2 separate regions of the Homo sapiens genome follow, and region 2 is reported to be linked to region 1. Evidence: microRNA targets listed by miRTarBase, many of them from high-throughput screens and not tested one by one. Region 1 holds a microRNA gene; the other region holds the end of a gene's coding sequence.
The links. Region 1 holds the annotated microRNA hsa-miR-4716-5p (UCCAUGUUUCCUUCCCCCUUCU, at 2,175-2,196, shown strand). A microRNA usually pairs through its seed, bases 2 to 8, with sites in the 3' UTR of a target mRNA and lowers its output. Matches are read on the target gene's strand: a 7mer-m8 pairs with bases 2 to 8, a 7mer-A1 pairs with bases 2 to 7 and ends in A, and an 8mer does both.

Region 2: the mRNA of ICA1L is a reported target of hsa-miR-4716-5p. Seed matches in the 3' UTR shown: 7mer-m8 at 1,757-1,763 and 7mer-m8 at 2,586-2,592.

Annotation. Positions count from the first base shown.
Region 1 is chr15:49,167,904-49,171,316 of GRCh38, reverse strand. It overlaps MIR4716 (microRNA 4716), which reads left to right and starts at 2,164; the gene lies at 2,164-2,247. GALK2 (galactokinase 2) reads right to left here and starts at 1,070. Exons shown (of 10, transcript NM_002044.4): 1 at 942-1,070. The coding sequence starts at 994. RefSeq lists enhancers at 883-1,122, 754-1,658.
Region 2 is chr2:202,776,430-202,779,842 of GRCh38, reverse strand. It overlaps ICA1L (islet cell autoantigen 1 like), which reads left to right. Exons shown (of 13, transcript NM_001288622.3): 13 at 195-3,413. The coding sequence ends at 310. Among named protein-coding and RNA genes, the nearest start is that of ICA1L, 94 kb to the left of the region's middle.

The DNA.
Region 1 (3,413 bases):
TGAGCTCAGGAGCTCGAGACCAGCCTGACCAACATAGAGAAACCCCATCTCTGATGAAAATACAAAATTAGCCGGGTGTGGTGACGCCTGCCTGTAATCCCACCTACTCAGGAGGCTGAGACAGGAGAATCGCTTGAACCTGGGAGGCGGAGGTTGCGGTGAGCCAAGATGGCGCCACTGCACTCCAGCCTGGGCAACAAGAGCAAAACTCCGTCTCAAAAAAAAAAAAAAAAAGAAAAAGAAAAAGAAAAAAGAAAGGAAGGAAGAAAGAAAAGAAAAGAAAAACAGCAAAAGCAGAGAGTCAGGAAAGCCCTTCGCTAATGTAGCAGGTGACAGACTTCATTTTATGAGACCTCAGCCCCATTAGTCAGAACGAAGTATTTCTACAAAGTACCTGTAACTGAAAAGATCCTCCCCGAGACATCACTAAACTATTAGTTACTGTGTAGCTAGGGACTGCCAGCAAATTAATTCCCTAAGTGACAGTTCAGAGATTCTCGTGTTTTTGTTTTGTTTTGTTTTAAAGAGGATGCAGACACCAAGAAGGTTTTTGTGTTTGTTTTCAATTAATATTTAGAAAGAAGACTTTTAAAAAGCAGTATCAACTGGCATGCGAGACAAAGAGAGGAGTTCAGTGTGGATATGGGCATTTCTGCTGAAGCCCAGTAGAAAGAGTACACTAATTACAACAAGAAAAGGAAAAGAAGAATCTGCATGGATGAAGAAAAAAACATACAACCCTTCGTAGTAGTCAAGGTAGAATGTGTTTGCGGCGTGATCTTTTTTGCAAGCCCAGCCACGTGTCCTTATAGAATCCCAAGGGTTCCACTTGCTCCCCGGGACCAAAAGCAGCGCCCCAAGGGAGGAGCCAAGTGCTGTGGACCCGATCTACACGTAGCCAACCCAGCAGATCCCAAAGCCCGGCGTCTCCTCTCCCCCACCTAGGATGTTCTGCCACCTGGACCCGACGCGTAGCAGGGCTCTCTGTAGCCATATTTCGCTAGATCCTTCTTTCTCCTGTAGTTTCAAGTGTCTAAGCAAAGCTCCCAGAGCAATCACGAGACTTCTGTGACAGGAGCCGTTTTCTTCCGGGAGATAAACAGCTCCCGCCCTGCGGAAATCCTGCAGCTTCGCTGAGGTGGCTGCTTCCAATCGGCCCCTCCTCTGGCTCCTCCTCCCTGGACTCAGCCAGGGTTCCCTCCAAGCAGCAGTCAGGTACAGCCTCCGTCCTGCTCTTAGCTCCCAGGGAGGGACTAGGGCCTCGCAGGAGCCCCTGCGCAGAGCACGTGCGAAGCTGACTAGTGAGGTTTTCTTTTTGCGCCCTGTGGATGTCAGAGAACAGTGTCATAACCTGGCGCCCTACATACACCTAGTTTCTGATCTGTCTCGGGCTGCGTTTTTTTGTTTGTTTGTTTGTTTTTTAGTTATGGTTTTGGTCTTTATTGTTCAGCAGCTACTCCCCAAACAACACTAAAATGTTTAGCTATTGCTTCTTTGCGGATTACTTCCAAATCAAGCAACATAAAATTGATGTATCACTTGATTTAAATAGATTTGCATTTATTTACAGGTTAGAGGCATTGGTGGGCCTTCCTAGAACACAGTAGTGAAAAGACGGAAACACATGCCTTTTAATGTGCAAGACCCCTTAGCATCCAGTTAAACCTCTTCATTTTTCACTTATCTAGAGAAATCCTAGATGCCCTATCAAAAGTACACTATCCCTAGTACATCACTAACTTTTCCTTCCTTCATAGTTCTCCTATTTGCTTATGTATTTATTGTGTCTCTCACCACCTCCATCATCACTACCACTAGAAAGCAACTGGGGGCAGGCAGATTGGTTTTTAATGAATAGGTAAGATAAACTGAATGAACGACGAAAGGTGAAATGATGTGCCTGAGGTCACAGTGATCATTGGGAACAAAACTGGAATTAAAATTCAGATCTATTAACTCTCAATCTAGTGCACTTTGCACCTCAGAAATATTGAGATTAAACCCAAGCAAAGACAGCTAGCAATAAACCCATTCCAAAGTTTCCTGATTAAGGAAGTTTGAGCCAACATGCCCAACACACTAGGGGTAGTAGCATAACTCAGAGAGATTCGATAAGTTGTATACATCAGTAAGTTACTGCTCCAGAATTTCTATATGTATATGCATACTTTGTCTCCATGTTTCCTTCCCCCTTCTGTATACATGTATACAGGAGGAAGGGGGAAGGAAACATGGAGACAAAGTGTGAATGGACAATAAAGCATAGCCAAAGAGTGGCAGCCCCTTGGCACCCCGTTGGGTTATTACTGTAAATGATACATCAAAGAAACAAAGTTACTCTGGTCTCAGGGCAGCTTTCTCACTATTATTTCAGTCCCTCTTTATCATTTTCAAATGAATGAATTATATCTTCTTGTTTCTGGGCCCCAATAAATCCCAGTTTGATGTTCATTTTGGTTTAATTTTGAGTAACAGGAGTCATCACTGTCACTTGTAAATAGTTTTAATAGGGAGATAACCTAAATTTTAAAAAAAAATGTAAAATGTTTAGGGACATCAGTAAATACAGAAAAGAACAGAATCTTTTTTTTTTTTTTTAGATGGAGTTTCGCTCTTTGTTGCCCAGGCTGGAGTGCAATGGCATGATCTCTGTTCACTACAACCTCCACCTCCCAGGTTCAAACGATTCTCCCGTCTCAGCCTCCCAAGTAGCTGGGAATACAGGCAGCCGCCACCACACCAGCTAATTTTTGTATTTTTAGTAAAGACGGGGTTTCACCATGCTGGGCAGGCTGGTCTCGAGCTCCTGACCTCAGGTGATCAGCCCACCTCGGCCTTCCAAAATTCTGGGATTAAAGGTGTGAGCCACCGTGCCCAGCCCAGAATCATTTTTTATTCAGATGTTTCTAATATATTCTTTTGCATTAGTTGAAAAATAACAAATTTTAAAGTTTTGAATTTTTTTAACAGTCCAAAATAAACTCATTTTATACAGGGTTAAAAAAAAATGACTGTAGAAACTGTTTCGAAAAAGAATACTTCCTACTGAATATGTACTTGATGACCGAACATTAACTTTGCTAAATGAAACCAGATGGCAAATCATTAGTTTGGACCTTGGATACATTGCTATTGCAGTCTCAACAAAACCGATGCAGACTAGAAAGCACCTTACAGAGCAATTAGTAAAGCATCCTTTTTTGAAATGATTGGCACAAAGTAAAACAGGATTAACAGAGCTAGAACTAAAACCTAGGTCTCTAGACTCCTAGCCTAGAGGCCATACTACTTCTGAATATGTGACTTTTGTTGAGACCCCAGTAAACTGTGCTTAAAAATAAATTATTGAAATGATTAGAATCCTTGTCCCAAAATAAAATGTGTACATTATAATTTTCATAAAGGATTACTCT
Region 2 (3,413 bases), not on the chromosome of region 1:
GGAAACCCCAGTCTCTACCGAAAACAAAAAAAAAAAAAAAAAATCTTAAAGGGACTATAGTTGATAGATTATTGTCAGTTATCTTAATTTTTTCTTAATCCAAAAGAAGCACCTACTTCAAAATCATAAATATGGTACAAAAACATGATTTCAAAACTGAATCTCTTTAATGTATTTTTTTTCTTTTTTAATAGCCCCCAACAATGGCAACCAAGACATGTCAGCCTGGTTCAATCTGTTTGCAGACTTGGATCCACTTTCAAACCCAGATGCTATTGGACACTCAGATGATGAACTTCTTAATGCTTGACTGAAGTTATAATGTCACTTCAGTGGCCTTGAGACATCAATTTTGCAACGTATTTCCTTCGTGGAAAGGATTTAGATTGTAACCCGCACACAAAAGCACGGTGTTTGTGAATATAACACCTGTCAGCCAACTTTAGACAGATGGTAAAGACCACATTTGAATAAGTACACATCTTTCATATCTTGGATTTGCAGCTGTTGGTACTATGTGGAAAATATTAGAAACTTCTATGTGGAAAATATTAGAAACTACAGAGTTTGCGATATTTAGATACTGAAATTTATGTCAAAATAACGGCTAGGAATAATTCTGTCAATATGGAGTTGAGCTTATTTCTTTGGAAACCCTTTTAAGTTGCCTTGCTGGCTGTGAGAATTTTATATGTGGATAACAAAGATAGATAGATAGCATGTAAATTGGGTTGTGGTTTGGGGTCAGTTTTTAAATGAAATAGTAGCGAGGAGGATTTTCTGTTTTGGAAAACACCATTAGAACCAGACCAGCTTTGTTTTGGGTTAGAGAGAGTAAGATTTGAGAACTCAGTTTGCTTTAATGAAATCACAGAGAAACTTGGTACTTGTTTTTCTTCATTTGGAGGCTAAAATGTAATGTTTTTTCATTCATACAAAATAATGGACACTCCCTAATTCCATTATTAAATCTTGAAGGGGAAGTAGCAGGATAATTAATTTGCTAAGCCCATCCTCTGCAGAAACAGAAAAATCTATCTTCCCATCTCCTAAAACTCAGAATGCACAGTAATACTTAAGGCTTGTACAAGTGTCTTCAGACCCACTTTTTCATACACTTGCTATATAGTAGTATGCAGTATTTATATTATTCCTGAAAATAAAATGAGGGGAGAATATTCCCTAAGCAACTGGCAATAGTATTCCTGAAATACCTAGAAATTTCTATCTGAATGAGGGAGACACTTATGAACACCTTATCCTTACATATATTTGCATACTTATCTCATATTTTGTGACATAATTATTTAACCCAGAATACTTTCTGGCAGACATACAGAAAGCTCTGTGTGATCAATAAGGGAGTGTCTCATTTTTCTACTTCCCTCTTTCTGTGGGTGACATGATCTGAGGTTCTATTTGATTACTAAGCAAAATCTGTTACCCCTACAGGGTTTAGAACCTAAGTATTAGAGAGGAAGGCTATTTAATGGAAGTTAGTGTAAGCTGATAAAAACGTAGCTACCGTACACACACATCAATCACTCAATTTCCTGTCCTTTTAAATTGCCCACCCTTTAATTTTGAAGCAATTTCCCAAGTGTGTGTTTGTTTTATATTTGTCATCCAGTCCATTGCATTTCCATAAGAAGACATTTTGACTGGCTGGGTGCGGTGGCTCACGCTTGTAATCCCAGCACTTTGGGAGGCTGAGGCAGGCGGATCACGAGGTCAGGAGATGGAGACCATCCTGGCTAACATGGTGAAACCCCGTCTCTACTAAAAATACAAAAAATTAGCCAGGCGTGGTGGCACGTGCCTGTAGTCCCAGCTACTCCGGAGGCTGAGGCAGGAGAATGGCGTGAACCCGGGAGGCGGAGCTTGCAGTGAGCTGAGATGGCGCCACTGCACTCCAGCCTAGGCAACAGAGCAAGACTCCGTCTCAAAAAAAAAAAAAAAAAAAAAAGACATTTTAACTAAGTTATTCACAGTAGCTTCCATGTGCTCTTAGTTCTATTCTAAACAGGCTTATTTAGAAAAGGATTGCTTGTAATGTTTGTCATGGTACATAGAAAACATTGGACCAGAGTAGGTAAAATGCAGTCCATGTCCCATCCATAGCCATCTACAATAGTAACTGCCCACAGGCTCTCCAGAAAACTACTACAATGGCCAAGTACAGTATAGGCTGGAAAGACCTTATCTGAAGGTCAGAAACATTGACTCAGAAAAAAGGTATGAAGTCTTTCCATAAAATCTTTTCACAATATTACTCCTATTTCTTTTAGATTTTAATGAGCCATTACTTATCTCTTCAGAAGACTTAAGTCTTCCTTTATACTCAGTGAAATTTCCCAGAATGTAATACTGTCACTGTTCTGCCAAGTTCCAATCACCAAGATCATGATTACGAATCCCAATCTGAATTCTATACCCATGGTGACTCTGATGCTCTCAACTTTTGAGTGCCTCAAAAAATGCTAAAACTTTGGCTGGGCATGGTGGCTCACGCCTGTAATCCCAGCACTTTGGGAGGCCATGGCGGGTGGAACATTTGAGGGCATGAGTTCGAGACCAGCCTGGCCAACATGGTGAAACCCTGTCTCTACTAAAAATACAAAAATTAGCCAGGTGTGGAGGTACATGCCTGTAATCCCAGCTACTCAGGAGGCTGAGGCAGAAGAATTGCTTGAACCCAGGCGGCAGAGGTTGCAGTGAGTCGAGATTGCACCACTACACTCCAGCCTGGGCAACAGAGAGCGACTCTCTCAAAAAAAAAAAAAAAAAAAAAAAAAAAAGCTAACTTTATGTCTTGAGAGTTTGTACCATTTTTCTTTGTAGTGGTCACCTTGCTAATGCATTAGTTCTGAGATATTTATCTCCCTCACATGTGTGCAAGGAAGTCCCTGTTATCGAATACAGATACTTTAACAAGCAGACAAAGCAGAAACCCAAAGTCCATACTAGGAACACCCTAAATTTTCCAAAAGCAAAAGTTCTCCCGAAATGGAGACATACAAGGGACTTTTATTATTCTGTTACTAGTTTCTATAACATTTCTTCTTTCAACAGAGTATATGTTTCCCATTTAACCCAGAGCAACATTAACTTCCTTAGCAAGTCCAGTTCTAACTTCCAACAAGTCCAACCACTGTTTTTGAAGAGCATATCAGTAACTATATTAAGATGAAGGTAACCACATTCGTATTTTCTCAAGATTAGTTATTTGAAGCTCAGCAGTTTTTGTGGTCAGAAAGAAATTTTGCTCTATTAAACCAATACTGCTAATATAAAAAACCACCACACTGAAGAAACGAGGGAAAGGACGGGATAAGCACAGAACAGAGAATGACTGGTTGCTTTTTGTCTCAATCTAGATAATCCATTCAATAAGAAGTAAATTAATTATCCTT